Homo sapiens: one gene and its partners. The protein of the gene in region 1 purifies or fractionates together with the protein of each later gene. This does not show direct contact. Each region holds a gene or a part of one and is shown in the gene's direction. Other genes may lie near its edges.

Region 1 (7,689 bases):
CATGTCCACAGTCAAGAAACTGTTGCTAGGCTGCACATTGGAATCACCTGGAGAGTTTTAACATTTGGTGAGGCCTTGGTCCCCTGCGCAGAAATCTGACTCCATTGGTCTGGGTTGCAGCCTGGACATAAGGGTTTTAGGAAGCACATTTTCCCCTATCCCTCTTCCCCCAGTGATCTAATGTGCAGCCAGGACTAAGAATCCTCAACTGAGAGAGCACAGTTGCAGAGGGCCAACAACAGAACACTGAGGACCCCTAGCCTAAGGGTCAGGCAAAAGCTAAGTCACCTGAAGGAGATGAAGAGAAGATGGGGGAGGAAAACTGGAGGTTTTGTTGGGGAGAGTTTCAACTGGAAGGAGTCCAGTCAGCAGTGCACGGTGCTGCAGGTAAGGACTTCCACCTGGGCGTGGTGCCTTCTTTCCTTTTTTTTTTTTTTTTTTTTTTTTCCCCTACCAAAAGCAGACACTTGAGATGTGGTACCTTTCAAGGAGGCTGGGCACCCCTGAAGGAAAGTCCAGAACCTCACGGGTCTTTTGCTCAGTAACAGAAACCCTTTTTCCACTGAGCTGCTTGATGGGCTTAGATGGGCAAACCTGAATTACCATGCTTAACAGAGCTACAGGGTCAAAGTTAGCTCAGGACGCAGAGTAAAAGGAGGGGTTGAAATCAGTAAGACGGCATGGCCAGTGAGAAACTCTTTGTGGCAGGGGCACAGAAAAAACTTTCAAAAGCTGGGTGACTGATATGCAGTGATAAGTTGTCAGTTATGAAATGTCTCCGCATAACTGCTCCAGCAGCCTGTAAACCATGTTATTCTGCTACACACAACGGCCTGAATTTGAGAGTTGGGAGTGGGGTGTGCACCAGAGACCTAAAGGATGAGAAGTTAACAGGGAAATGAGAGGTGGGTGGGGAGGGCATAGGACTTTCCCTGGGATGCAAGATGGGGATTTGAGCCATTCTTATCTAAGGGGAAGGGAGACATCAGGTCTGTAGAGGAGAACAGCTCATTGGCTTTAGAGGTCACTGAGCACACAGTGAGAGGAATTTCATTCCAGTAGGGCAAGCAGATCTCAATGGGCTAGAAAGTGAATAAAAGTGAAGAATTGAAGGCAGAAGACAGAACAGAAAATGCTGTCAATCTTTAAGTGAGCAAAGTGTCTCAGTCTCTGATTATCCTCTTGTATTTTAAAAGGTCTGCCTCTTATAGTCCCAGATTTTTTTTTTCTTAAAGATATATTTGTAGTCTCTTACAGTTAGTCATAAATAGATCTAGGTGCTGAATAAAGGAACTCCTCCATTTTCCATTTGAAAATATATGAGATAGATATCTCTGCTTTGCATATCATCAAGACTGCTAATCTCATTAGACTGAGCACATTAAGACATTGGGAGGAAGGTTATTTGAACTGCAATATGATCCTGTATTTTTGGCTTTAAACCAACAGGGAAGTATTTCTAATTGGAGATACAAATTTCACATTAAACTTTTTTAGGATATGGTTTGTGGGAGACAGACTGACACACTCTTAGAATCTCACTGTATTTTAAGAGCTTGTTTTGAAATTTTAGGCTTTCATTTTCCCACCCTGACCTCCCAGTGTTTAAAGTAATGCATACTTGTAAAATAGAAATGTTGGGGTGAGGGATAGAGTTAGGATCAGGAGACTCAAACACTACAATAAGGAACAGAGTAGAAAATGGAAGTCCTGTGTGATTGATCTGGAAGTTAGGGTGAGGAACATCTGCTGAGTAAAGTATAATAATTTGTTGCAAAAAATGATATTGCATCTCCACATGACCATTTCTGTAATGGCTGTATCAGAATATCCTGTTTAGTGCCTGTTCAGTGACAGGGAGTCCCTGTGGCCACAGAGCATGGTATAAGGAGACCTTGAGCCCAGTTTTTGGGTAAGACCGGAGGTTAGGGGGCCAGCAAATGGATCTGCTGTTAGGGGCAAAGCTGCTCTGGAAGCACCCACTTGCTCGCATGGGGTCTATACCTCAACCACAGTACCACCTCCTCCTGTGTCCCTCCTCCATAGTTACCTTGTTTTGACCCCTAGAGCCAGGGCTCACCATTGCACTGGTACCTTGGGGTCATTCCAGAATGGCAGACTATGTGTAAATGGAGGGTACAGGTTAGAGGATGAGCTTAGGGATTTGAGGTGCAGCTAGTGGGGCAGTGGGGAGGTGAGGGTGGACTCTGACCTTCCAGGCACTGTAGGCAGGCAAGGGGAGTGAGCTGCAGAGCCAGGCAGGAAGGGCGTATGGGTGGGAGCACAGCTCTGAAATGCTTTGCATAGTTTGCATTTTGCTTCTGGCAGAATGAACAATGGTTAGTCAAGTCCTGAACTCCCCAGGGGAAGCCTCCAGCCTGGTTTCTGCCACCGCTACCACCTCTGTTTTGAGGATTCAGGCACTGCCCCGTCTCAGAGGCACATTTGTGTCTAACTTTGGGAGATCGATAGCAAACCCTGCCACCTAGTGGCAGGCCGACTCACTTGGCAGGCACGACAAGTAGGTTGAAGAGATCTTAAAATTATCTACTGTAATGGCAAAGATAGCTTTATTTGAATGACAACTATTTCAAATCCTCACAGCAATTTTCTAAGTGGTTCTTACTATCCCCATTTTGTAATAAGGAAGGTGAGACTTAGAGGGCCTGGATGATACTTGCCTGAGGTCATATAGCTAAAGTGATTAAATGAGTTGAGTTTTAAAACAATTAGAACAGTTTCTCAAACCTTACAGAGCACTAGAATCTCCTGGAGGGCTTGTTAAGACACTGATGCCTGGGCACCATCCCCAGAGTTTCTGATTAGGTAGGTCTGAGGTGGGGCTGATAACCAGCATTTTAAAAATATATCTTATTTTTAATTGACAATAATTATATGTATGGGGTAGATGTGATGTTTTAATATATGTATACATTATGAAATGATTACATCAAACCAATTGACATTCATCACCTTACCTGCTTATCCTTTTTGGTGGTAAGAACATTTAATATCTACTTTTAGTAATTTTGAAATATACATTATTATTAACCATTGTCACCATGCTGTGCAGTAGGTCACCAGAACTTATTCCTCCTAACTGAAACTTTGCATCCTTTGACCAACAGCTCTTCTTCCATCTCTCCTCTCCCTCCCAAAACCTCTGGTAACTACCTCTCTACTCTGTTCTTCTATGAGTTTGACCTTTTTAGATCCCACATATAAGTGAGGTCATACACGGTATTTGTCTTTCCATGCCTGGCTTATTTCATTAATGTGCATTTCTAACAAGTCCCCAGGTGGTGCTGATGCTGGTGGCACACAGGCCACACTTTGAGTAGTGTTGGCTTGGAACAATGTCTGGCACAATATCAGCACCAAATAAATGTTAGATAAAATTGATAGGTGAAGGCAGAGTCAGAATTGACCTCAAGCCTGTCTGACTCTAAAACTTGTTCTCTTTTTACAACATCATGCTGCCTCTCAGGCTTAGTAAAATTCCATACTTTGTCCCTTGCTTAATTTTTTTTCCTTCTCAGAAAATAAGTTGGAGGCTGGGTGCGGTGGCTCATGCCTGTAATCCCAGCACTTTGGTAGGCTGAGGGGGGCAGATCACTTGAGGCCAGGAGTTCAAGACCAGCCTGGCCAACATGGTGAAACCCCGTCTCTACTAAAAATACAAAAATTAGCCAGGCGTGGTGGTGCACACCTATAGTCCCAGCTACTCAGGAGGCTGAGGCAGGAGAATCCCTTGAACTCGGGAGGCGGAGGTTGCAGTGAGCCAAGATTGCACCGCTGCACTCCAGCCTGGGCAAAACAGCGAGACTCCAGAAGAAAATAAGATGGCGGCCAGGCATGGTGGCTCACTCCTGTAATCCCAACACTTTGGGAGGCCGAGGCGGTCAGATCACAAGGTCAGGAGATCGAGACCATCCTGGCTAACACAGTGAAACCCTGTCTCTACTAAAAATACAAAAAATTAGCCGGGTGTGGTGGCACACGCCTGTAGTCCCAGCTACTCAGGAGGCTGAGGCAGGAGAATCACTTGAACCCAGGAGGCGAAGGTTGCAGTGAGCAGAGATTGCACCACTGCACTCCAGCCTGGGCAAAAGAGCAAGACTCTGTCTCAAAAAAGAAAAAAAAGAGAGAAAAAAAAAAGAAAGAAAATAAGATGGCTAGTTGGTGTTAGTTTTTGAAGTCATATCCAGTTTTGTGTGCTGGAGTGTTTATTGAAGGGCTAATTACGCACAGGACTTTCTTAGACTGTGGACAATACCACGGTGTGAAACACAGTTCCTGTCTTTCAAGAATTTTTCACCTTGGCCTGGGAAAACATGTCTTGGAAGTATGAAAAGATCACATCAATATAGGACCTTGGAAAAGTTACAGGCAGTGTGATGACGAGGTCAAACAGAGTTGGATCACTGAGGGCTGTGGCACTACAGAAGGTCCACGTGGGGGAAGGCATGAGCCAGCATCCTAGAGAATGAGTAAGACTTGGGTAAATAGAGCAAGGGGAGACCATCCAGGCAGGGGGAGGGAAGAACAGTGTTATAAGAGTAAGAAGGGCAGGAAGGGTACACACGTTAGTGAAGGACCTTCTGTGTATCAGATGTGGGGGTTGCATTTCCTAACCTGTCTCATTGATTCCTCAGAAGAGCCTTATGAGGCAGGTAATACTATCCTCCTGTTACAAGTAAGGAAACGGAAGGTCAGAGCAGTCAGGTGAGCTGCCTAGGGTCACAAAGCCAGCAAGTGTCAAGCTTGGCTTCAAACCCAGGTTAGACTCCTTTTTCCTTTTTCCGTTGCAAGATGTTGCTAAGGTGTGGAGGAGGCTGGGACGGGACTAGGGTGAGGCTGTCAGGCACCAGCAGGTGTAGGGGTGACCCTGAGATGGAGTACTTCCTTCAGTTTTGGGCCCTAGGCATTTGGCGTGGCCCGTAGGAAGAGCAGTGAGAAAACAGCAGGCCTGCAAGGTGGGTGTTGAGGTCAGCTGCTAGCGAGCTGTGAGTACCAGGCTGAGGAGTTTAGACTTTATTTCAGAAGGGACAAGGAGCCATGGAAGTTTTTGCAGCAAGGAACTGATATGATCAGAGCACTTGACTGTGGACAAAGTGGAAACCCATTAGGAGCATCTCAGAGTTGTCTGGAGGGAGATAATTAATCAGTATCTGGACTAGAAGAGTCCAGAAAAAAGAGAACTGATGCCAACCACTTCCTTTATGAACCTCTGGAACTTGGTGCTAAGGATACCAGGCAGAGAGAAAATCTTGGTAACTTGGAGAATTGTGAGGCCTTTCCTATAAATATGCATAGCCATTGAAAGAGCTGACTGCTGGCAGCGGAGAGAGAAGGAAAAGCCAGGTTTAATCACATTGCACTCCAAGTGATGGGCATGGGGTAGCCAAGTTGTCCTGGCAGAGGAAGTTGACAGAGAAAAATGGTTTTGGAGTCGTCTGCCAAAAGGGGAAGTGACTGAAGTCCTGGATGTCGGCCTTGATCATTCTTTTGAGGTTCTTACAGGACTGTCCCACATGCCCAGCTTTGTGGGTTTACTTAGATATGTTCCCCAAAGCCTGCAGAACCCTCGCTTGGTTGCCTGACCCGTTCTTACCCTTTCTCCTCAGTCTTCCCTTGGACCAGACGCTTCCTCGCCAGGGTCCTGGCCAATCCCTGTCCTTCCCAGAAAACTACCAGACTCTTCCCAAGAGCACCCGACACCCCTCGGGGGGCTCCTCGCCACCTCCCCGAAACCTGCCAAGTGACTACAAGTATGCGCAGGACCGAGCCAGCCACCTGAAGATGTCGAGTGAAGAGCGCCGGGCGCACCGGGATGGCACCGTGTGGCAGCTCTACGAGTGGCAGCAGCGCCAGCAGTTCCGGCACGGCAGCCCCACAGCGCCCATCTGCCTTGGCTCCCCAGAGTTCACCGACCAGGGCCGGAGCAGGAGCATGCTAGAGGTGCCCCGCTCCATCTCTGTGCCTCCATCTCCCTCGGACATCCCTCCCCCAGGACCCCCAAGGGTCTTCCCACCCCGGCGGCCACACACACCAGCAGAGCGAGTCACAGTGAAGCCACCGGACCAGAGGAGGAGTGTGGACATCTCGCTGGGGGATTCTCCAAGGAGGGCACGGGGCCACGCTGTCAAGGTGAGGCTCGGGAAGCTCTGCCAGGCTGCTGGGTCATCATGAGGGCGCCAGGAGCTTTGCCTGGTTTGAACACAAATTTGAGTAATTTGGGATAATAATGATAGCTAATACTTAGGCAGTACATTTTAATAATAGATGCCAGGCACAGTTCCCAAGGGCTTCGCTTTAAATTCTCACCACAACCCTGTGAGGTAGGTGCTATGTTTATGCCCATTTCAAAGATGAGAACTCTGAGGCGCTGAGAGACAAAGTAACTTGCACAGGGTCACACAACTACAAGTCAGCTTCCTTGCATCTTGAAAGGCAGGAAAAGACATCTGTGTCCAGTCAGTTAAATTATAACAATCCAGCTTAAGTTTTCACTTTCCAAGAGGCTTTCACAGTTTAGTGTTCTAACCCTGAGAGTAAGATGTGTGTGCTCATTTCATAGATGAGAAGTCTGGGGCTCAGAGGGGACATGGCATGGGGCGGCTTCCCTGGGAGTGAGTGGCAGAGGTTTGGGCTCCAGTGTGACTTCTTGTCTCCCCACTTGCAGAACTCATCTCATGTGGACCGACGCTCCATGCCCTCCATGGGTTACATGACCCACACCGTCAGCGCTCCCAGTTTACATGGAAAATCGGTAGGGTGAATGACAAGACATAGCCTGCAAAGCCCTATCTCATCAACATTTTCCTTCCTCTGAGTTAGTACAATGCAGTCCAGAGGGCAGCTATTAACCCCCATATTAGAGATGAGGAAACTGAGGCTCAGAGAAGTTGAATGACTTGCTTAGGGTCACCTGGCTGTCACTGGGTCCCCAGTGAAGGGGAAGAGCGTATCAGGGAAATGTAGGGGAATATTAGGCTTATCTCCTCTTTCAAGATGAATTTTGCCAGAAACATTTTTCAGCTACCCACCTTTTTCCACAGGCAGTGCCTCTCCTTTCTTCCCTGATCTTTGATTAGTTAACTAGTTAACTCAATCTTCAAAGCTCGAGTCTGAGACCAGGTGTGGTTGTTCATACTTGTAATCCTACCACTTTGGGAGGCCGAGGTGGGTGGATCATTTGAGGCCAGGAGTTCAAGACCAGCCTAGCAAACATGGCGAAACCCCGTCTCTACTAAAAATACAAAAACTATCTGGGTGTGGTGGTACACTCCTGTGATCCCAGCTATTCGGAAGGCTGAGATACGAGAACTCAGGAGGTGGAGTTTGCAGTGAGCCGAGATCACGCTGCTGCACTCCAGCCTGGGTGACAAAGCAAGACTGTCTCAAAGCAGAAGAAAAAAAAAGCTTGAGTCTGGGTGAGGTTGCACTGTTGGTTGTTGCTTTCCTGAAAAAAACTTCCTGAAGCCCTTTTACTGCCAGTGCCTTTATTTGTCCTAATGACAGAATTGACACAGTAATTGCTTAACGGTGTCACATCAGTGCTGTCCTGGCACTGACACCGGGGTGAAGAGCGTAATTCTAGCAGTGTGCTCCTGCGGTGCTAACTTCCTTGTGCTGTGTCTACACATCTGCAGCTGGAGGAGCTCTCGTTGCTTCTCACCCGGTTAA
Region 2 (8,489 bases), on another chromosome or scaffold:
AAGATTGCTTGAGGCCAAGAGTTCAAGACCAGCCTAGGCAACATGTGACACCCCATCTCTACCAAAAGTTTTTAAAAATTAGCCAGGTGTAGTGGCATGTGCCTGTCGTCCCAGCTACTTGAGAGGCAGAGGCACGAGAATCACTTGAGTTCAGGAGTGTGAGGTTGTAATGAGCTATGATTGTGCCACAGCACTCCAACCTGGGCAACAGAGTGAGACCCTGCCTCAAAAAAAAAATTATTAAATGGAATGACTTCAAACTGATGACTTAACCAAATATTCAACTTGAGAGTCATGCTTTCTAATGCCAATTTTTAATTTTTCCAAAGCTTTTATAGTGCATTCTATTAATTTTTTAATTTTCTGAATGTTGGTTGATCTTAACTGCAGTGCAACTGAAAGTAATGAAAATTATTTAAGAATATCAATCATTAAAGTAAGGTATTACAAGAAATTAATATTAGCTGATCTTGTTGCTAGGCCAGAATAAAAAGAATGAGAAAAATGCATTTATAATGTAGGATATGTGTGCCATGCAGCATTAGCGGTTGGTAAAGTACATGTCCACCCATCTCAACCTAAGTACTTGGCTAATTTTAATAATTTCAGTTTCAAGTTATTTAGCTATAATTTCCAACTGTTTCCTTTTTTTGGGTTGGTGGTAAACAGAATAAATTTTATCCATAATATTGTTATTTTTTCTTGAGACGGAGTCTCACTCTGTCTCAGGCTGGGGTGCAGTGGCACAATCTCAGTCCACTGCAACTTCCGCCTCCTGGGTTCAAGTGATTCTCCTGCCTCAGCCTCCCGAGTAGCTGTGACTACTGGCGTGCACCACCACGCCCAGTGAATTTTTGTATTTTTAGTAGAGACAGGCTTTCACCATGTTAGCCAAGCCAGTTCTGAATTCCTGACCTCAAGTTATCCGCCTGCCTCGGCCTTCTAAAGTGCTGGAATTACAGGCATGAGCCACCGTGCCCAGACTATCCAGAATATTTTTAAATGATTGACTTGTTTTATTTCAGATACTGAATTATAATTGGTAACAGAACCAAATGATGACATTAGGAAATTTTTCTGACAAATCTGTGGCCACTCCAGTCTTCTTTCCCATTATTGTGAAAGCACCATTAAAACAAAATGCAGCTTACTTTCAACTATTCATTATTAAATTTCAAATATTCATTACTGAAGCCACATTTAAAGTAGACAATATCGGCTGGGCGCGGCGGTTCACGCCTGTAATCCCAGCACTTTGGGAGGCCAAGGCTGGTCGATCACTAGAGGTCAAGAGTTTGAGACCGGCCTGGCCAACATGGTGAAACCCTGTCTCTACTAAAAATACAAAAATTAGCTGGGCTTGGTGGTGCACGCCTGTAATCCCAGCTACTTGGTTGAGACAGGAGAATCACTTGAACCCAGGGGGCAGAGGTTGCAGTGAGCCAAGATCGTGCCAGTGCACTCCAGCCTGAGGGACAGAGCACAACTCTGCCTCAAAAGAAAAAAAGTAAAATAGACAATAATGTAGTAGAAATATAATCTGTGTGGCAGACACCAATTACTTTTTTTTTTTTTTTTGGAGATGGAGTCTCGCTCTGTTGCCCAGGCTGGAGTGCAATGGTGTGATCTCTGCTCACTGCAACCTGTGTCTCTGGAGTTCAAGCGATTCTCCTGCCTCAGCCTCCTGAGTAGCTGGGACTACAGGCGCACACTACTACACCTGGCTAATTTTTGTATTTTTAGTAGAGATGGGATTTCACCATGTTGTCCAGGCTGGTCTCGAACTTCTGACCTCGTGATCCGCCCACTTGTGATCTGCCCACCTCAGCCTCCCAAAGTGCTGGGATTATAGGCGTGAGCCACCGTGCCCAGCTGACACCAATTCTTTTAAAGCAACAAATATCTTTACCAGTACAGAAGCTTATTCAACTGTGTACTGGAGATAAATCTCTAGGTAATTTTCTTCCAATATGTAGATGTCTCATCAATTATAGTGCATATTTGCCATTCTCTTCCAAGATTCTTAAATATGTTGACATAATTTCTTTTGCAGTATGTTCTGCTATTCTTGTTGCACCGTATCATGTATGTAAACATTTGCCTGTATCTACTCCATTTTTCCCTTTCAACTCTATTGTTCCCTTCACTATCAGATAAAGGCCTATGAGTTTTTTGTTTGAGACAGGGTCTTGTTCTGTCGCCCAGGCTGGAGTGCAGTGGTGTGATCTCGGCTCATTACAATCTCCAACTCCTGGGCTCAAGGCATCCTCCCACTTCACACTCCCAGGTAACTGGGATTACAGGCACACACCACCACACCCAGCTTTTTTGTCTGTTTATTTTATTTGTTTGTAAAGACAGGGTTTTGCCATGTTGGCCAGGCTAGTCTCTAACTCCTGGCCTCAAGTGATCCCTGCCTGGGCCTCCCAAAGTGCTGGGATTACAGGTGTGAGCCACTGCACCTGGCCCATGCCCATTCTTTAAGTATTGTCTATGGCTACTTTGGCACATTTGGCACTACAGTGAGAGCTGAGTAGCTGTGACAGAGACTATAAGTCCCACAAAGCCTAAAATATTTACTATTTGGCTGTTTACACAAAAGGTTTGCTAACATATGGTCTAGAAAAATCAACAAAACAATAAATCACGCCCTGACTTGCTGCATTTGCCCATTTCCATGGTGTAAATACTCCCCTTACAGCCAATTTCGTGCTACCAATGTGACATTTCTGAATAGAGTTGGGAAGAGATGCATACAACATATGTAGTATTTCCACAGGGAATACAATGGACAAATAACCTCAAGAGCAGAATTATTAGTAAAATGAAGAAAAAAACTACAAAGTGATGAGTTTTTAATATTTATTATATTTAAAAATTTTTTTTTAGAAATAGGGTCTCACTCTGTTGCCCAGGCTGGAGTGCAGTGGTGTGATCATAGCTCACTGCAACATCAAACTTCTAGCCTCAAGCCATCTTCCCGCCTTAGCCTCCCAAAGCACTGGGATTACAAATGTGACTCAACATGCCTGGCCTATTACTTTTATTTTTAAGATAATTTAATTGTAGCTTATATAATTTGATTTCTAATAATGGTTGTGCTTATGACCTGGCTCATAAAATCCCTGAAAATTTAGCAATCAACCTAATGCTAGCTCTATCTTCAAAAGGAGGCTTTGGGAAAGCAAGTAATTTTTGTATCCACTAAAGCACAGAGCTAAAAAAAATTGGGGGGAGGGGAGACATCTATTGAGGGAACGCCACATGCAGGGTAACGTATTTTCTGGAGTACTATCCTGTATTGATATTGTATGCTCTTTAGCATTCCCATGCTGTCTGCCACTTTTGCTGGAGTCTTGATACTTGATACTGTTAATGCAAAATAAGTAGCAGGCCATTAGTTTGGAGTTGTTTTTGTACCCAGAAAGCAACCCAAAATTTAGAGGTATTCCTTGCACCTTTTGTTTGTTTTGTTTTTTTGAGATGGAGTCTCGTTCTCTCATCCAGGCTGGAGTGCAGTGGCGAGATCTCTGCTCACTGCAATCTCCACTTCCCGGGTTCAAGTCATTCTCGTGCCTCAGCCTCCCGAGTAGCTGGGATTACAGGCACTTACCACCACGTCCGGCTAATTTTTGTATTTTTAGTGGAGACGGTGCTTCGCCATGTTGGCTAGGCTGGTCTCGAACTCCTAACCTCAGGGGATCCGCCTGCCTCAGCCTCCCAAAGTGCTGGGATTACAGGTGTGAGCCACCGCGCCCGGCCCCTTGTACCTGATTTTGAATGGAGTTTCAACCAATCACAAACAGACAACCAGCCAAGTGGTTATATAATTAGGGACCTCCCATGTGACCATACCCAAATAAGGCAAACGCTTAGCTGTAGCCAATCAAATTTCTTTACTTTCGTGTTCAGCCTATAAAGTTTGATGCCTGGGCAGCTAGAGCAGGGGTGTCTGAGCCTCTTTTGGTTCTGACTGTTGTCCGATTCAAAATCTAAGTTTGTTTTGTCTGAAATTTTTATTTCTACAATACCTATCCAGAAATCAGTCTAGGCTGGATATTTGAAGGAAGAAGGGAATAACTGGCTGGCATATTCATCACCTGTTGGAAATCTCTCTTCTCACACATTTTCATTAACTTCTTGAGGAAGTGTAATTACAAGCGTTTTCCCACGAGCAGCCCCTACTAATAACGCATCAAGCTGCATGAATTCCGAAAAGCTTCAGAAAACTTGTGGTCTGAAACCCTACTATGCTTGAGGTACAGGAAAGAAGGATACTATCAAAAGGCATCATGCAGCTGGCACGGAACTGGGACAAGAATTTGGGGGCAGGATGGCCAAGTGCTAGGCCAATTGACGGTCTCCAAACCATTAGCACAGCTCCTATTCTGAATGGAGGAGTAAAAACAGCTGTTGGAGAACTTGGACGTCATCTGCCCTTGTCAAACCGTTTTCAGGATTAATGTACTTAATTCAGCTTTTTCCACTACACCACACAGCCTCCTGTAAAACACCCTCCCTGCACACAACTTACCCCCAAAGCACCAGGAACCTAGCTGGCTAGAGTTGAGCTTAGGAAAAACCTGAGTGGCTCCAGAGTCAAACTGCGATAACGTTGAGTCAGAGGAGTTAAGGACAAAGTAGAGCTGCACAGAGGCCCACGTCGTGCAAGTGCGTGTCTCCTTCAGAGAAAAGCGTGCCGAGGTAGACTAGGCCCCGGGCAGCAAAAACCCTGTCCCGTCGCCAGCGCCCCGCACCGCCAGAGCGACTGGAGCAGACGCGAGCGCTGGGCACGTAGCCGGTGGCGCGCACGCTCAGCCCGAGGCCGCACGGGAGGCTGTCTGGCGTGCGCGCCCCCGCGGCGGTGGGCGGGGTCCGGGGCGGGGCCGCAGGAGCAGTAGGTGTTAGCAGCTTGGTCGCGACAGGTGCGCTAGGTAGAGCGCCGGGACCTGTGACAGGGCTGGTAGCAGCGCAGAGGAAAGGCGGCTTTTAGCCAGGTAAGGGCCTTCTCTCTCCACAACCGGAGAGTGCGGGAAGACCCCGGCTTCTCTCCACACCCTCTTTCTCCTTCGACTTTTGGGGCGGGGGGAGTGCAAGGAGTGTGAGTCCCTCCCCCTCGAGATAAGGGGTCGAGGGACGCTGATCCTCCGTTCTTTCCTCACTTCTGGGGCCTGCGCTGGGTGGGGAGTGCTTATGTCGGGCTGAGCCTTTGCTGCCCAAGGGCGGGAGCTGCAAATACCCCGTCCTCTCCCACCGAGAACACTGCATTCTAACTGTATACTTTCTGGTGTGGTGGAGGAAGGTGACAATTCATTAAAACTCCAAATACCCTCCTTCCAGGGAAATACTGTAATATTCAACTGTTCTTTTTCCTTCATTTTCAGCCATTCCCTCTCTTTTCGATTTTTTCTCCCTTCCATTACGCCAGCTGAACTCTGTTTAAGACACTTACACCCTTTTGAGGAATGTTGAGAATATAGCAGTCCTTGCAGCCGATGTGTCATCCCCGAATCGCTATCGTGTATATATCGCTGGCACTTGCCCCCGACATATGTTGGTGTTAATGTAAGGTAATTGTACACCCCTGGCTACACATACTAAAGCTTGAAGTTGTAGCTGCTAGGAACGAACCATCTGGCACCCTTCCTAGCCTCCTTACTGATGCTTGCAAGAACGGTTTAGCTGATCCTGGTGAGAGATATTTGAACTACTATTGTCTTGCACCTAATTCCAGCTTTCAAAAGTCTGCCTTGGACGGGCGCAGTGGCTCACGCCTATAATCCCAACACTTTGGGAAACTGAGGCGGGAGGATCGCTTGAGCCCAGGTGTTTGAGACCAGCCAAGGCAACTTAGCGAGACCCTTGTCTCTACAAAAAAATAAATAAATAAATAAAAATAAAAGATAAGTCTGCCTAATCCAGATCTGCCTAATCCAGATGGTTCAATTGACTTGACTTTTCAGGTTAGTCAAAGGTAATTAGGGAGTTATCAGTTTTTAAGGCAATGCCCATTTTGGGGAGAGGTTTTCTTTTGCATTAAGTATTCTTTCTTTTGCTCTTGATTTAAATGGTTTAACACAGTACCTTTTATCTGCTTGGTTACCAATACTATTCACAAATGCTAAATATTTCAGGAGCCATGAAATAACACCAATCCTTTCTTCTGAGGTATGATGTAGACACAAAAGAACATGACCCCTAACAACATGTTCTAAGTTCCTGTAGAGGTATAACCTGGGTGCAGGATGATCACGTTTTAGATAGATCTTCAAAAAATTATAGAGTTGGCGTGAAAGAAGGCAAAAAAAAGTGTGTGTTCATATATGTTTTCTTGTTTTGCATTGATAGAACAACATATAATGTACTAGGTAATTAGTTTAGGAACTTATTTCATTCTTTGGACAAAATATTGAGTGCCTTTCATGTCAGTCCTACTGTAGATTCAAAGTGCCAAACGTCTTTACCCTAAAAGAACTTAAAATCAAATGGGTTAGACAGATCCACATACAATTTATGGTATTAGTGAGGTCATTTCTATACTAGAGGTCAGCCCAGGGTACTGTAGGAGCATAGGGAATATAGGTGTTTTGTTTTGTTTTTTAATTCTCTCTTCTGCTTTTCCTTAAAAACAAAAACCTCTGAGTAATAATGAGTGATTCTCTTCAATCTATGTATTTGTATCACTTTCATATTTCTTACCCTCTCTTCCTCCAATTCTATGGCCTATGGAAAATGGGATTAGACCCTGTTGTTAATGTGGCATTTAGTAAATAGTTGGATCTGTTTCCACTGTTCTGTATTGGGCTGGGAAGTGTTGTTATCAGGTAGTCCCTGGGAAGAGAACAGTATATTGGCAACATTAGCAAAGGAGTGCCATTTTGTAAAAATTACCTCATTGTATAACTTTCTTTAACTTGGTACACTCAAGCTTTGTTCCAGACTCTGGTTAAAGGTGGGGCTAAATTTCAACCTAATAATTCTAAAAGAAAGCTTCAGAAGCTAAAACAATTCACATCTTGGTGACAGGGGATACTTTTTCCTGCTAAGATGCCCTCAAAATGTTTTTCTCTTTCTTTTTTTCTTGGGTGGGGAAGACAGGGTAGATAGGTGGGTGGGGAAAAATGTTTTTAAGTATAATTTTGACTAGTGTTTCTTCAGGTTTCAAATTCTTATATTTTCTCTGGTATTTTTCACCAGTTAACTGCAATTAACTTAGAGCCCTCGTACCAAAAAAATTTATCAAAGACACACACACAGACACAAAAGAATATTGAGAGTGTGGGAGTTCATTAGACATCTTTGGCATAATAGGGCACCTAACCACAAATTGGAAGAATTTATTATTTAAATTGACAGTGAAACTAGTTTCAGGCATTCTTAATTCCATACACTATTAGATAGATGACTTTTAGATTAGAATTGTACCCTTTCTGCAGATAGGAAAATGTATAACGAGTCCTAAGTTAGTAATTTCCATTAGAAAAGGCAATTGTTTTTTAAGTTTGCTATTGTCTTTCACTGTATGTTTTTTGATAGAAACTTAAGGTACTTCATTTTAGATTGCATACAGTAATCTCCAGGTGAGGTTACTTAACACAGCCTCTTCAGGTTACTAACAAACCAGTGGTTGTAAATGAAGTAGTTTCTACTTAATGATTATGGAGTTGAGAGTCTATGGTGGATGATAAGGTAGGACCATACTGATGAGTTTATTCTGAAGCTGGGTGCAGAGTCCTCAAGACTCAGTCAAATTATTGTGCTACTGAAGACCTCTTTTCATAAAAAGGATGGAGTTTGACCTAACAAGCAATCCATTATTCAGCATGTCAGATGATTTCTTGACACGTGAAAACTTTCTAGAGACTTCCTGTGTCCACTCATAAGAAGTTAACATGATACCATGAAAATTTTACATTCTTTTGATGTTCTTTTAAATAATTTCTTAATACTACTACCCTGGGCCGGGCGCGGTGGCTCACGCCTGTAATCCCAGCACTTTGGGAGGCCGAGGCGGGAGGATCACGAGGTCAGGAGATCGAGACCATCCTAGCTAACATGGTGAAACCCAGTCTCTACTAAAAATACAAAAACAAAATTAGCCGGGCGTGGTGGCAGGCGCCTGTAGTCCTAGCTACTCGGGAGGCTGAGGCGGGAGAATGGCGTGAACCCGGGAGGCGGAGCTTGCAGTGAGCGGAGATCGCGCCACTGCACTCCAGCCTGCGTGACAGAGTGAGACTCCGTCTCAAAAAAAAAAAAAAAAAAAAAAAAAAAATACTACTACCCTGAAACTAAGAACTTTCATCTTTAGGGGAAAAAAAGATGCAACTTTTTTGTACTTCTGATAACAAGTGTGGATCTATTTTCCCCCTTAATTATTCTGTAACAGAGTTTATGATATGGAAAACTTTACAGTCCTTCAAATATGTTTTGTCTTGCACAAAGTATTGCCATTTTTGTTTCATTACCCATAAATTAGTCCCAATATCCGC
Region 3 (7,599 bases), on another chromosome or scaffold:
TACCTCTCTTGCATGAACTTCTTTACTTACCTTTCTCAATAACCCCACAATGATCCCGTTTTTACTCCTCATCTGTCCTTTATTTCTCACAGTTTGTTCTGTAGTCCTCTTAGCAAACTTTCATCTATGAGGATGATTCTTAGCTCTGTCTCTAGCCCTGATTTCTTTTCTAGGCTTCATTTCCAGTTGTTTGCTAGACATTTGTATGTGTGTGTGGATTTACCACATGCTTTTTTAAAATTTTTTTTGAGACGGAGTTTTGCTCTGGTTGACCAGGCTGGAGCACAGTGGCGTGATCTCTGTTCACCGCAATCCCTGCCTTCCGGGTTCAAGTGATTCTCCTGCCTCAGCCTCCCGAGTAGCTGGGATTATAGGCGTGTGCCACCACGCCCGGCTAATTTTTGTATTTTTAGTAGAGACAGGGTTTCTCCATGTTGGTCAGGCTGGTCTTGAACTCCTGACCTCTGTTGATCCGCCCGCCTCAGCCTCCCAAAGTGCTGGGATTACAGGCGTGAGCCACCGCGCCCGGCATCACATGCTTCTTTAAAATATCAGGTTCCAGAGTTAATTTATCATACTCTTCTTCTAGGTCCTCCTCAAATCCTTCCTGTCTCTTGTCCTTTCCATTTCAGCTAGTGGCATCACCTCATTTCCATTATTATTATTATTATTATTATTTCGAGACAGAGTTTCACTCTTGTTGCCCAGGCTGGAGTGCAATGGCACAATCTCGGCTCATTGAAACCTCAGCCTCCTGGGTTCAAGCGATTCTCCTGCCTCAGCCTCCCGAGTAGCTGGGATTACAAGCATGTACCACCATGCCCGGCTAATTTTTGTATTTTTAGTAGAGACAGGGTTTCACCATGTTGGCCAGGCTGGTCTCGAACTCCTGACCTCACGTGATCCGCCTGTCTTGGCCTCCCAAAATGCTGGGATTACAGGCATGAGCCACCGTGCCCGGCCTTAAACGGGTGATCTTTGAGAGAACAATTCAGTAGAGTTGCTAGTGGTATCAGTGAATCTTGGAGAATTCAGGAAAGAATTGCAGGAGAGGAATTTGGTTCCAAATCCACTTTTTTTTTTTTTTTTTTTTGAGATGGAGTCTCGCTCTGTCGCCCAGGCTGGAGTGCTGTGGCTAGATCTCAGCTCACTGCAAGCTCCGCCTCCTGGGTTCAGGCCATTCTCCTGCCTCAGCCTCCCAAGTAGCTGGGACTACAGGCGCCCACCACCACACCCAGCTAATTTTTTGTATTTTTAGTAGAGACGGGGTTTCACCATGTTAGCGAGGATGGCAAATCCACTTCTTTGATGAAACCTGCAATTTACCTAAAACTTTCTCTATTATCCCATTTCATAAAATAAAACTTCTCTCTTTAACATCTATCAGTGTTATTTCTTCTTTCTGGGTATTATATTTGCTATAAATTCTGTTTTTGCTGTATTTATAAACTGGCCAATTTTGCCATTTCTTTTTTGAAAAAATTTTATTATTATTATTTTTTATAAAGATGGGGTCTCACTGTGTTGCCCAGGCTGGTCTTGAATTCCTGGGTTCAAGCGATCCAACTCCAGGGCTCAAGCTATCCTCCTGTTTTGGCCTCCCAAAGTGCTGGGATTAGAGGCATGAGTCATCACGCCTGGCCCTGTAGCATTTCTTAAGGAGAGGGATCACCTGTCTTCTGAACTCTGGAAAAAGACCAGGGTGTCGCCTTTGTCACTTGTGCCTGGATGTACCTCTCAGACTGAGTGCTTCCTTGAAGAACAGATGACGAAGGCGGTGACTCAGAGGCTCCCACTTATCCTTGTAATTCGTGTTCATGGTGCTGGGTAACCACCCAAATTGGTATTTACTACAAATATACTAAGTATCCTAATTGCTAAGGTGTTATCTAGGGGAGTTTAGGCGCTTCCGCCTTTCCAATATCTGAGTCAATTTAATATCCCACATTAAAAAAAAAAATCTCCTTACAAACACTTGGTGGGGGCGAGCGTGGTGGCTCACTCCTGTAGTCCCAGTACTTTGAGAGGTCGAGGCAGGCGGTTCGCTTGAGTTCAGGAGTTCAAGACCAGCCTGGACAACATGGAAACCCCATCTCTACTAAAAATGCCAAAATTAGCCCGGTGTGGTGGTGGGCGCCTGAAGTTCCAGCCACTCAGGAGGCTGAGGTGGGAGGATCGCTTGAGCTTTGGAGGCTGAGGCTGCAGTAAGCAGAGATTGCACCACTGCACTCCAGCCCGGGTGACAGAGTGAGACTCCGTCTCAATGAAAAAAACAAAACTAAAGCAAAAACAAAAACAAAAAAACCCAAAACAGGCTGGGTGTGGTGGCTCACGCCTGTAATCCTAGCCCTTTGGGAGGCCAAGGTGGGCAGATCACTTAAGGACAGGAGTTCAAGACCAGCCTGGTGAAACCCTGTCTTTATTAAAAAATACAAAATATTAGCCGGAAATCAATTGAATCTGGGAGGCGGAGGTTGCAGTGAGCCGAGATTGCGCCACTGGACTTTAGCCTGGGCGATAGAGCAAGACTCCGTCTTAAAAAAAAAAAACAACAAAAAAAACCCAAACCAAAAACCATCCCATGGGAGTGTCTCTGAACCTATTCTGGTTCAGGAGGCTGCACAATAAAAGAAAAATAAGAAAAAATTTTTTAAAAAAAAGTCTTTTAAAAGCCACCCAGTGTTCAGGAGGTGCGCTCCTGGAAGGACATTTCCTCTTCTGTCCCCACCCCCACTACATGTTTTTTGCTGTTCCTCCCCAGGGAACAGGCCGGTTTGATGGCCCTAATCCTTATATACAGCTTGCTCTGGAATGCAGAGACTTTGCATCCCAGCTGAGGAGCTGGTAAGTGGACTTTACTCTGTAGGACCCACACCTAGCTTTTGAAGGCTTGGGGAGGGGCGGAAACCAGCTCCCGAGAATACACCGGAATCTGTGCTGCATCGAAGATTCCTCTTCTACTCCAATAGATACAGGGTAAATATTTGTTGTAACTAAATGAGAACAAAATCCGGAGCCCAGCAACGTAAACGAAGTCAATCTCTTTTTTACATATCTCAACGGTTAACAGCTAGGATGCCAGCTTTAATGTTGTTTTAACTGCAGCTGGTATGAGCGGTCCTGCAGTTTGCAGAGCCCCTAGTTTTTACTCTTTTCTAGGAACTGGGATCAGCATCCCTACTTTTTGAGAGGCTAACTCTGAGGTAAATTTACAACTGAGTCCCTTTCAGTTTAGAACGAAGGTCATTCCTATTTTGGTAAATTTGCGTCCCCGGTTTCCATTCATTCAGTCAACAAATATTTATTAAGCATGTAGTATGTACCAGTCCCTGTTGTAGGCGTTTGGGGTGAAGCAAGGCACAGAACAAGAGATCCTTGCTCTGGTGAAGCTTATCGTAGGACGGGAGGCAAAATGATGAAAATGATTTTTAAAATTATGTTATTAACTAGAAGGTGATAAATATTACATAGAAAAAGATGTCAGGCTGCAAAATGATTGCGGAGGCCACAAGATAAAAGAGAATCCAAGATCAGGGTTCTGGTTCGGGTCAGGGAAAAGGGAGACGAGCTGAGGTGCAGGAGGCTCTGACGTCGGGGGACAACGGAGATATTTTCTGCAGAAAGTGACGAAAGAGCATTCTGGTTCCTGCAGAGGTAGGTGAAGGACAGAAAGGGCCCTGGCCGGCGATTCCCTTGGAGTAAACGGGAGGCAGGAGGCTGTTTTCTAGCAGAGCCCAGAAGATGCTCTGGCCGACGGCTCCCGGGATCTTGGCCGGCGGTCACTCGCGACCATCCGCGACGCCCCCAAAATGGCCTCCGCGCCCCTCGCCGCCCCGCCCCGACGCTCCGCAGCCCGTGGGTCCACGTGACCTGGCCCGCCCTTCGCGGCTGGAGACCCCGGGTCCCGGTCCCCGCACCGGAGGCCCCGCCCCCTACGGGAAGCGGACCAACCGGAGCGGGGAAAGGCGGGGCGGGCACTGACGGCCCGCGGGGGTGGAGCTCCGCAGCGGAGTAACAGGTTGGTGGGAGGGAGAGAAAGGAGGGAGCTCCGAGGACGAGGGGGAGGGCCGGAGCTGCGCGTGCTGCTTTGCCCGAGCCCGAGCCCGAGCCCGAGCCCGAGCCCGAGCCCGAGCCCGAACGCAAGCCTGGGAGCGCGGAGCCCGGCTAGGGTGAGTGGACCCGGTGCGGGCCAGGGCACCCGAGAGGAAAGCGAGCCTTCAGGGGTACCTTTGAGGGGCAGGCATCGAGGCGGTGTGAGATGCCCCTCTCCAGGGCACCGGTGCCGAGTGGGAGACGGGAGGAGGGGAGATTGGGGCGGGGTGGGGTACTGATTAAGAGCCGACCCCTACCCTGAGGTGCCAGATGCAGGTGGCTAGGAAGGTGCCAGGCGAGGGGCACCTGGGGCGAAGGCTGTTCCCAGCGCATGAAAGCGTTTCAGCGCCAGATGTCTCTGGAGGTCAGACGCCAGCCCTAGGGGCAGAATTTCTCTTGGAGACAGCGGTGGCGCGGGGAAGGAGTTAGTTCCAGCTGAGTCGGGAACTGCTGCTGCCTGAGGTGCAGACTCGCCAGGGGAGGGCATCTGCAGGTGCTGCTCGCCTGAGGGTCTTTCCTGCGTCCTGCGGTCTCAGCTGGCCGTTGTCAGCACCCTGGTGGCTTTGAGATGACTCTGAGGTGTGGGATTTTTTCCCCAGCCCTTCACCTCCGGCCGAAGGCAGTTGCGAATCAGAGACACTGAGGGGCAGATGAGAGGGCACCCTCATCTCTTCACCAGGTGTACAACCATTAGGCTTTCACTTTGTGTCCTTTGCTTTCGTGCCAGGGAGAATCGTTCCTTCTTCCTCTTGAGAGAGAGAGAGAGTACTCCCCAAGAGAGGGATATGAGGAAGCAAAGAGCCCTGCCTGGTCCTGCAAAATATTGATAAATATTAATACTTATTTCTCAGGAGGCCCCTTTCTGGGGGCGGATGTCAAACCCTTTCTCCAAGTACCCACATATTTTTTCTGTGGTTCTAGATGGGGACCATTGGATGAGGTTTGGGAGCCCAACCAATTTCCTTGATGTCTGGAGGAATCCCCATTACTCCCTGAACGCCCTCCAGGCATCCCTGACTCCTGAACTGCGGTGGCTGTCAGAATGGCAGCAGGCACTATTGGGGCAGGAAATAGGCAGGACTCATCAGGAGACCACGAGACTAGGGAAATTACAACTCCAAATCCCCAGGACAGATGAAAGGTGCACCTTGGGGCCCAGACAAGACTGGAGGCAAATTTCTTTGCCTTAGGCAGGTAAAGGAACTAGAGTCAACCTTAGCTTGGCCCCTTTGAAGCCCTGCCTGAGGAAGGTTGTTGTAATTGGGAAATAATTAGCAACCGCTATGTTTGTAGATGGGCTGCCTACACATGCCTATGCATCTCTTCTTTCATCCTGGATGTTTGGGAGTCTGGGGGCTGGCTCTGGGGGACTGCTAATCCAGAGATTTGCCCGACTCTAAGAGGATTCTGGCTTCCTAGAACCCTTCCTGTGTTTCCCAGGCTGGCCTGCATGCCATTCCCCTTGTGGGAGGTGATGGGGGTGTAGGGCTCTTCTCTTTGTGCCAGGGAGGGGCGGACTGAGGACCAGGGAGGTGGCCAAAGCAAGTGTGGGATCAGGAATGCAACTTTGGGAACCTCAAAGGGAGGGGTGGAGGGAGACAAAGTCTCCCTGTCACATACTGGCCTGTCACCAGGTTCCTGTTCATCTGCTCCTCCTGCCTGTTCCCTCCCTGCCCTCTGTCCTCTCCTTCAGAGCTTTGGCTTTGCCATCAAGGCTGGAGAGCCCCTGCCTGTGGTCTTGCCCCTCTGCCTCCTCCGTGGTGTGGAATTTCTCTGGTCTGCTTTACAAGCTGCCAGTGTAGTTTCCCCGGCCCTCCCCTTCCCCTTGCCTCTCAAACCAGTCCAGCCAGTTTGCAGGGGCCCAGTTCCTCATTGTGTTTTTTTCCCTACTGGCCAAGCAGCTGTAGCCTGGCTCTCAGGTTTCTGCTCTTTCAGCGGACCTGGGCAGGAGTCCACTTGGGGGATTCTTTTTGGATCCACGGGGAACCTTCTTATCTCTAACTATGAGAAAAAGGGTGCCAAATCATCAAGGTCACTGAGCTGTCCTTTTCTATTTCGACCATTTGCTTTCCTTGTTTCCTCTGAGGGGATTCTAATCTCTATACCTCAAGTTCTCCCGTTTTCTAAATCTGCCAATTATTTAGCATCAAGCATATTGCCTGGCCCTATGTGAATCAGTCCTTCCTCCACACACCCGAAACCACCCCACCCCCACTTCCTGCCAGAAGTCCAGATACCCTGTCACTCCTAGTTGGAAACCAGATGCATATGGCTGGGCCAGAGGTGATGGAATTGGGGCAGGGCAGGCTAATGAGTAACTCAGGGAGAAGTGGCTGTCTGGTACAGGTGTAGAGTGTTCTCCCACTCCTTGCAGGCAGGAAAGGCAGAAGCAGACAGATGCACCTGAATCAACTTGTGGTCTGGTCTCTTCCTGGAGTACAGTTGGTGAGGAGAGCCCTGGACATGTGATAGGGGAGAGAAAAGTAGGGTCAGGCATTGGTGAGGGCGCAGGCCCTGGACTCCATGTTGCCTGGCCCTTGATCACTGTTTACCTGCCTGTCTCTGGGGCTTACGCAAGGCCTCAGAGCTGCCCTGCTGCCTTGGTCCCGCCCCACTGTCCTCTGTAACCAAAGGCGGGTAGGTTTCGGGTTTTCCATGTTGAATCATTTAGAGCCCTGCTTTCTGACCCACCCCAAAGATCCCTTCAGCCCTCCTGGCCCCTGATCCACATGTCCTTGGACTGAAGGTGATTGAGGTTAGGGAGTTAACCTAACCTGGGACCTGGGGGAGTGTTCAACACTGCCTCTGAATAATTTAGTGCTGTTGCTCAAGGGTCTGTGCCCTCTGCTGGGCCTAGGCTGGGAACTCCTTGACCTGGATCTGGAAGATCAGTAGATGTACTGACAGGGTAGACTGCATCATGAATAAATCATATGGCTTCTGAGAGCTGGCAATCTAGGCACTTCTGGTTCTAAGATCATGACTACATAGGGCAGCAAGTCTGGACCAGGAGGAGGTCCTGTTGCTAAGAGGTCCTGTTACTGAGGCAAAGTAGATTTGTCCTGGGCAAATCTCCCCACTGCTGTGCAAGTGGGCTTTAGTTCAGGATACAGCCTTTAACAAATATTTGTTGACATCTACCACGTGTCCAAACACCTGGGGACACAGTGGTTAGCTGCTAGCCATGGTCTTTGCCCTCCAGGAGCTTATTATCTCGTAGGGGAGACAGACAGGAAATAATTACTCCAATAAATGTATAAATATAAACTGGAGTAAACCTGCTGAAGGACAACTATAGAGCGTATAACGTGGATCTGACCTGGTTTGTGGGAGGCTGATTTGTGAGAACTGACCTTGTTTGTGGGAGTGGTGGTCAGGGAAGGCTTCTCTGAAGAAGTGACATCTTTCTATGAACCAGGTGAAGCCAAAAGTGCCTGTTGGACAAAGTAGCATGTGTGAAGGATGATATTTGTTGTCAGCTTTGTGATAGTCACATGCTAAATGTTT
Region 4 (7,689 bases), about 41 Mb from region 1:
GGAGAGGGAGCATCATGCTGCTGTTTAACCCAAATAACCACAGGAGCCAGTGGTCTCTGGGTTGGCTGACTCTGTGATGTGACTTGGGAGAGTTGGTGTTAGAAATGAGAAGTATCTTGTGTTTCCTCTGGTTTTTCTAGTCTGACTTTGCTGTGATGTAATCTGTCTGAGGTTTTGTCTGTCTTCCTCTGTGTGTGTGTGCGTGTGTGCGCGCGCACTCGCGCATGTGTGTGTGTGGTAGACATTGCCTGATAGATTGCATCTTACGAGAGATCTCTGAGTGGGAACCAGAACAGTACTCATGCCCTGATAGTCCTTTTCATTGAGTAATTTTTATTTATTTATTTAAATAGGAGTGCAGTGGTGCAATCTTGGCTCACTGCAACGTTCGCCTCCCGGGTTCAAGCAATTCTCCTGCCTCAGCCTCCTGAGTAGCTGGGACTACAGGCGTGTGCCACCACACCCAGCCAATTTTTGTAGTTTTAGTAGAAATGGGGTTTCACCATGTTGGCCAGGATGGTCTCGATCTCTTGACCTCGTGATCCACCTGCCTCGGCCTCCCAAAGTACTGGGATTACGCGTGAGCTACTGCACCCGGCTGAGTGATTTTTTTTTTTTTTTTTTTAAGATAGAGAAAGTCCCTCATACTGAGGAGCCTTGCAGTTGAGAGAGAACAGAATTCCAGTTGGAGGATCAAGGAATTTGAGGGAGGCAGCATGCTTGCAGTGTTCCTAGGATTTTTACAGGAACTACAATAGAAAGTTAGGGATGAAATTATATTGAAAGGAGAAAGCTGGACTGCTCAGGTTTGGAGGTCATGGGGAATTCCAGGATTCAGTATGTGGTTGCTCTCTTATTTTTAACTTCTGCTTAGCAGTAAAACCACACCCTTCCTTCTTCCTGAAAGTAATGTTTAACTTCCTCTCCCTGCAGCATTACACTCTATGTAATGGGAGTGGGGTGGAGGAAGAGTCTCCCAAGGTGGTTGGATCTCACTATTCTACTGGAAGAGGAGCAGGCAAATATATTTTTATGTGGTATAATGTCATTAGATTATTTCCTGCTGCTTAAGACAGAGCAACTTCTGGATGACATTTTGGAATGTATTCTGTGGCTCTAATAATTGTTGGTAAAGATATTGAGCCTTCTGTTTTCTTGAGGGGAGTTGGGGTGCTTGTTTTTGTACTTGGAAAGGGAGACTCGTATCTCTTGCTTTTTTCTTTAATTAAATTTCTGTTTTTTACATTAGGACATGATAGCCATCTTGCTTCTTTCTTTAAAAAGCTGCCTGGAATGGGAGTTTCCAGTGGTAGTACTGCATGAAGATTCATGAGACTATAAAGCTCTTTGGAAACCCCCCAACTTAGCCCTTCCAACTTTCCTTACATTTTTATGGCTTTCCAAAAAGGTTGCATGTAAGGGAAATTATCTAGGTCTGTGCTGTTTATTCAGCAAATAGTTTTTGAGCACCTGTTATGTGCCAGGCACTGTTCAAGGCACTAGACTAAACTAAACTTATCCCAAAAAACCCTCTGCCCTCGTGGAGTTTACGTTCTTATGTTCCAGAGACCCTGTCTGCCAGAGTTCCAGGCCTGATTTTCAATTTTGAGGAAAGTGCTAAGACTAAAGAGTGAATGGTTCTTTTATGAGTACTGACACAAGGACTCCAGGCCACACATATCTTCTTGAAAGCCCTTTTCCTGTTTGAAAAAAAGATCGTTTGTATTTGATAGAGCAAAAGAAGGCCACAAAATGAATTGTCTTCTTGTGGGCTGTGTTTCAGAACGGCCGGTTTGTGGGCGATGCTGACCTTGAAAGACAGAAATTTTCAGATTTGAAACTCAACGGACCCCAGGTAATTCTTTGGCTCAAGACCTGGGTTGCTTCATTCATATTTTCTTATTTCCCCAGCCTATAAGAGCATATTTGTGTCTTGTAAGGTGCCTGGCACATTGTACATACTCGTCAATTAGTTTCTTTTATTTACGAAAACAAAGAAGTGGAGCTCCAAAGTATATATGCAGTTTTGTTTTGGAATGAATTTTAATGACCATTGATCTTTATGACTATTCCTCCTCCCCACTGCCACCCCATTTGATCCCTAAGTACTGCGTTTCTTTTCTAGAGACAGTAGGCTTCTACTTTGCAGCAAAAAACCCTACCTAAAATCTGGCTGGTCTTGAGCCTTTTAGACGGTATCTGAAGAGTAACATAAAGCCAGTCAAAAGATGGCTCTTACTGGGATTTTCAGGTTTGTCTTAAAAGTTCTTTATTTTTGGCCAGGCATGGTGGCTCATGCCTGTAATCCCAGCACTTTGGGAGGCTGAGGTGGGCAGATCACCTCAGGTCGGGAGTTGGAGACCAGCCTGACCAACATGGAGAAACCCCGTCTCTACTGAAAATACAAAATTAGTCAGGCGTGGTGGCACATGCCTGTAATCCCAGCTACTCGGGAGGCTGAGGCAGGAGAATTGCTTGAAACCAGGTGGCGGAGATTGTGGTGAGCTGAGATCATGCCATTGTACTCCAGCCTGGGCAACAAGAGCAAAACTCTGTCTCAAAAAAAAAAAAAAAGTTCTTTATTTTAGACTGGGCACGGTGTCTCATGCCTGTAATCCAACACTTTGGGAGGCCAAGGCAGAGCAAAACTCCGTCTCAAAAAAAAAAAAAAAACAAAGTTCTTTATTTTGGCCAGGCGTGGTTTGCTCATTCCTGTAATTCCAGCACTTTGGGAGGCTGAGGCTGGAGGATTGCTTGAGCCCAGGAGTTCAAGACCAGCCTGGGCAACATAGACCCTGTCTCTACAAAAAAAATAAAATTAGCCAGGCATGGTGGCGTGAGCCTGTAGTTCTAGCTACTCAGGAGGCTGAAATGGCAAGATTGCTTGAGCCTGGGAGGTTGGGGCTCCAGTGAGCTATGATCATGCCACTGCACTCTAGCTTGGGTGATAGAGTGAGACCCTATCTCAAGTAAATAAATACAAGTTATTTATTTATTGGGTGAGCTGCTCTTTTGAGGGATCACTCAGATATAGATGAAACTGCATTTAACACAGTTCATGTTCACTTAGATGACCACAGCTGGGAAGTTAAATCTACTGTCTGTCACTTGGATGTTGATGTGGCTATAGTTAGTTCATGTTTGTTAAATGACTACAACTGGGAAATTATGTCTACTGTCCTTTTGTACAAGTTCAAAAGATGACAGCCACCCATCTAAAAATCCTGAGGCCTATAGAAGATGCATGAGGAGTCCCTGTCTCCAGGTTTACCACTTATGCTTCTTATTAGGATGGCTTGTTATACATAGCACTTAATAGTAGTTTCTTCTCTTTTCTCTTTTGCATATAGGATCACAGTCACCTTCTATATAGCACCATCCCCAGGATGCAGGAGCCGGGGCAGATTGTGGAGACCTACACGGAGGAGGATCCTGAGGGAGCCATGTCTGTAGTCTCTGTGGAGACCTCAGATGATGGGACCACTCGGCGCACAGAGACCACGGTAAACTAAGACGTGTGTAAGATCTGGAAGTGATAAGAGGTCTTTTCTTCTCTATTAGGGGAGGGGTTAAGCACTTAATTAAGATGGAGGACTGATATGCCATTATTGATCTGATTGCATGAAGTGATCTCTGGCCAGATAGAAAGGATGAAGAGATGGGAAAATCTTATGGGATAGGGAAGACAGAAGGTATATCAGGGTCTATAGTAGCTTCCCTTATAAGCATAGTTACTGTCAGGGCAATTTTCCTGCTTGGGGACTTCCTATAGGATGGAAAGAAAGATAGATGGTAGGCTTTAAGGCATTCCTAGGTAAAGTGACCTAGGGATATAAAGATTTGTTTCTTTTGGAGTGGTATAGAATTTAATTGTTCATGGCTGGGCGCGGTGGGTCACGCTTGTAATCCCAGCCCTGTGGGAGGCTGAGGTGGGCGGATCACGAGGTCAGGAGTTTGAGACCAGTCTGGGCAACATAGTGAAACCCCGTCTCTACTAAAAATACAAAAAATTAGCCAGGTGTGGTGGTGTGTGCCTGTAATACCAGCTACTCGGGAGGCTGAGGCAGGAGAATTGCGTGAACCTGGGAGGCAGAGGTTGCAGGTGAGCCGAGATCACGCCATTGCACTCCAGCCAGGGCAACAGTGCAAGACTCCATCTCAAAAAAAAAAAAAGAATTTAATTGCTCACTTCCTTAATTAGTTTTTCTTTTTCTTGTTTCCTACTTGCAGGTCAAGAAAGTAGTGAAGACTGTGACAACACGGACAGTACAGCCAGTCGCTATGGGACCAGACGGGTTGCCTGTGGATGCTTCATCAGTTTCTAACAACTATATCCAGACTTTGGGTCGTGATTTCCGCAAGAATGGCAATGGGGGACCTGGTCCCTATGTGGGGCAAGCTGGCACTGCTACCCTTCCTAGGAACTTCCACTACCCTCCTGATGGTTATAGTCGCCACTATGAAGATGGTTATCCAGGTGGCAGTGATAACTATGGCAGTCTGTCCCGGGTGACCCGCATTGAGGAGCGGTATAGGCCCAGCATGGAAGGCTACCGGGCACCTAGTAGACAGGATGTGTATGGGCCCCAACCCCAGGTTCGGGTAGGTGGGAGCAGCGTGGATCTGCATCGCTTTCATCCAGAGCCTTATGGGCTAGAGGATGACCAGCGTAGTATGGGCTATGATGACCTGGATTATGGTATGATGTCTGATTATGGCACTGCCCGTCGGACTGGGACACCCTCTGACCCTCGTCGGCGCCTCAGGTAGGCAAGAATAGGGGAAGAGAAAAGGGTCTTTCCAAGACCAGGGACAAGGGGTAGCTTTTCCTTCAACTTCTAGGGGCTTTTTGGGATCAGAGATACTCGTGGCCTCCTCCCCTCTGCTTTTTTTTGGGGTGAAAAGCTACCCTGTTTTTCCCTTTTCTGACTTGGCTTAGTATTGACTTGCTATATATATATAATATAAATATATATATAATTTTTTAAATGAAAATAATATAATTTTATTTTTTATTTTTTTGAGACAGAGTCTTGCTCTTTCACCCATGCTGGAGTACAGGGGTGCCATCTTGGCTCACTGCCACCTCCGCCTCCTGGGTTCAAGTGATTCTCATGCCTCAGCCTCCCTAGTAGTTGGGACTACAGGCAAGCACCATCACGCCTGGCTAATTTTTATATTTTTAGTAGAGATGGGGTTTCACCATGTTGGCCAGGCTGGTCTCAAACTCCCGACCTCTGGTGATCCACCCGCCTTGGCCTCCAAAAGTGCTGGGATTACAGGCGTGAGCCACCGCGCCTGGTCCACAAGTTGTTTTCTATAATTGAATATATGGGCCAGGCGCGGTGGCTCACGCCTGTAATCCCAGCGCTTTTGGAGACTGAGGTGGGTGGATCACCTGAGGTCCGGAGTTCAAGACCAGCCTGACCAACATGGAGAAACCCCGCCTCTACTAAAAATACAAAATTAGCTGGGCGTAGTGGTGCATGCCTGTAATCTCAGCTACTCGGGAGGCTGAGGCAGGAGAATCATATGAACCCGGGAGGCAGAGGTTGTGGTGAGCCAAGATCATGCCATTGCACTCCAGCCTGGGCAACAAGAGCGAAACTCCACCTCAAAAAAAAAAAAAAAAAAAAACAACTTGTGATTGTTATTAGTCTGTGTCCTGAAGAATGAACTTTGCTTCTGCTTCTATGCTGAAGTTTTTGCTGTTTCTGGCTAAGATGTGACCCCCTTTTGGTGTGTTAGGCAGAGGATTCTGATGTCTGGGGCCATGGAATTCTTGCTCACTTCTTCCTGGGAATTTCTTTAGTTTCTGATTTGGTATTAAGAACAGAGTCCATTGGGCACGGTGTCTCACGCTTGTAATCCCAGCACTTTGGGAGGCCGAGTTGGGCGGATCACGAGGTCAGGAGATCGAGATCATCCTGGCTAACACGGTGAAACCCTGTCTCTACTAAAAATACAAAAATTAGCCGGGTGTTGTGGCTCGTGCCTGTAGTCTCAGCTACTCAGGAGGCTGAGGCAGGAGAATCACTTGAACCCGGGTGGCAGAGGCTGTAGTGAGCCGAGATCCCGCCACTGCACTCCAGCCTGGGTGACATAGTGAGACTGTCTCAAAAAAAAAAAAAAAAAAGCCAAAAAAACCCCAAAACAAAACATAGTTGAGGGTTTTAGGAATTCAGAACCAAAAGAGACAGTTGAGGACGTGTATAAGAACTTTCTTGTGTTTTTAATCCCAAAGTTAAAAACAAACTTTGACCTCACAAGGGCCTTGACATTCTATGCTTAGGGTCTTATTATTTGATTGTAAAGTGAAATTGTGGTGGCATCCTTGGGTGGGGGTCGGGGGATACATTAGCAACACTCTGAAAGGTCACTAAGCAGCTGCCTACTCTGACTTTACTACTTGTTCCTGGAGATTCTTTGGTGATGTGAAAAAAGGAGTGATTGATGTTTGGACTGGTACATGGTTTGCCTTGTTGCATTGAGAGAATGCTTTAGAATGGGGTCGACAGACCCCTGAAAATGACCACGTAGAACTATTTTAGGCTTTGCAGGCCATGTATCATCTTTGTCGTATGTTGTTCTTTTTTTCAAACAATCTTTTAAAAATAGCATTATGGGGATGTACAAAAACAGGTTTGGCCCATGGGCTGCCAATGCTGCTTCAGAATAAATTAGAAACAGTGTTTTCCAGGTAAAGAGAAATGATAAGAAACAAGGGATGATTTATGGTTGTCTTGATGGTAAGGATATCCTAGCAGCTGTTGCTGAATTTCTCTATATGGGGTCATGACCTTTTAAAGCAAATGCCTTGGTGCTCATTTTCCTCATATATTAGGTAGCTTTGGTTAAGAGTGAACAGGGCTGGGCCCAGGGGTAGAGGCCCCATTATCTAAGACTGAGTCACTCACCTTTCAGGTGTCTTGGATAGCTAATCCAACTCCCATGTGACTCATTTTTATTCCTACAGGAGCACCAGACCTCGGCTGGTGCAACCTAGAGCAGTGGTAGATAACAGCCTTCATTGAAGCAGTCTGTCCAGGGTGTTGGCTCTACTGCAAGTCTGCTTTTTCTGACTTCCTCATTAGTAAAGAGTGATTGGACCCAGATGGGTGTGGGTGGCCAGGTCATTCTCTGCCATCCCTAGTTGTGCTAGTTCACATAGAGTTTTGGGCCTGGTTCTTGGGTTTGTTCCAGGGTAGCACTGGACTTGGAAACCTGCTTGACTAGCAAGCATATTTGCTGCTTCCTGTTCCAGGCTAGAAGAGTAATACAAGGTCAAACTTAAACAGTGAGGCAGTGATTAGTGGAAAAAGCACTGAACCCTGAGACCTTGGTTCTAGTTGTGCCTTTGCCACTAGCTAAGTAGCCTCAAGCAAGTCATTTGGTCTTCCCAGGCACAGCTTTGTTTCTTGTAAAACAAAGGAAAGAATGTCCAATCCACTGCCTTTGTATAGAAAAGGATATAGGATAGAGTTATCTGGAAATTTTGGTTATGGTAATTGTTCTTATAATTTTGTATATTAATAATAGAGGTTAAACATGTTCAATACAGAGCCTGAAAAACCCAGAAAAGCATTACCATCTATTGATAAAGAACCACTGTTAACATTTTGGTGCATATCCTTTGAGTTTTTTTAATTATACATGTAACTATATCCTATTTTCCCTCTACTAAAATGG

What was found.
Region 2: the proteins of PLEKHA7 (region 1) and LIMA1 purify together in Homo sapiens (affinity purification with mass spectrometry; 2 studies listed by BioGRID and IntAct, with this or other methods). This does not show direct contact.
Region 3: the proteins of PLEKHA7 (region 1) and CGN purify together in Homo sapiens (affinity purification with mass spectrometry; 2 studies listed by BioGRID and IntAct, with this or other methods). This does not show direct contact.
Region 4: the proteins of PLEKHA7 (region 1) and CTNND1 purify together in Homo sapiens (co-immunoprecipitation; 2 studies listed by IntAct). This does not show direct contact.

What each region holds. Positions count from the first base shown.
Region 1 is NC_000011.10:16,815,261-16,822,949, reverse strand, and holds part of PLEKHA7 (pleckstrin homology domain-containing family A member 7), read left to right. Parts: intron 1-5,627; coding exon 5,628-6,150; intron 6,151-6,685; coding exon 6,686-6,772; intron 6,773-7,655; coding exon of another isoform or gene 7,656-7,689. UniProt on the Homo sapiens protein: Required for zonula adherens biogenesis and maintenance. Acts via its interaction with CAMSAP3, which anchors microtubules at their minus-ends to zonula adherens, leading to the recruitment of KIFC3 kinesin to the junctional site.
Region 2 is NC_000012.12:50,279,928-50,288,416, reverse strand, and holds the start of LIMA1 (LIM domain and actin-binding protein 1), read left to right. Parts: upstream 1-4,896; 5' UTR 4,897-4,997; intron 4,998-8,489. UniProt on the Homo sapiens protein: Actin-binding protein involved in actin cytoskeleton regulation and dynamics. Increases the number and size of actin stress fibers and inhibits membrane ruffling. Inhibits actin filament depolymerization.
Region 3 is NC_000001.11:151,507,347-151,514,945, forward strand, and holds the start of CGN (cingulin), read left to right. Parts: upstream 1-4,040; 5' UTR 4,041-4,169; intron 4,170-7,599. UniProt on the Homo sapiens protein: Probably plays a role in the formation and regulation of the tight junction (TJ) paracellular permeability barrier.
Region 4 is NC_000011.10:57,792,227-57,799,915, forward strand, and holds part of CTNND1 (catenin delta-1), read left to right. Parts: intron 1-1,783; coding exon 1,784-1,855; intron 1,856-3,350; coding exon 3,351-3,503; intron 3,504-4,230; coding exon 4,231-4,766; intron 4,767-7,689. UniProt on the Homo sapiens protein: Key regulator of cell-cell adhesion that associates with and regulates the cell adhesion properties of both C-, E- and N-cadherins, being critical for their surface stability.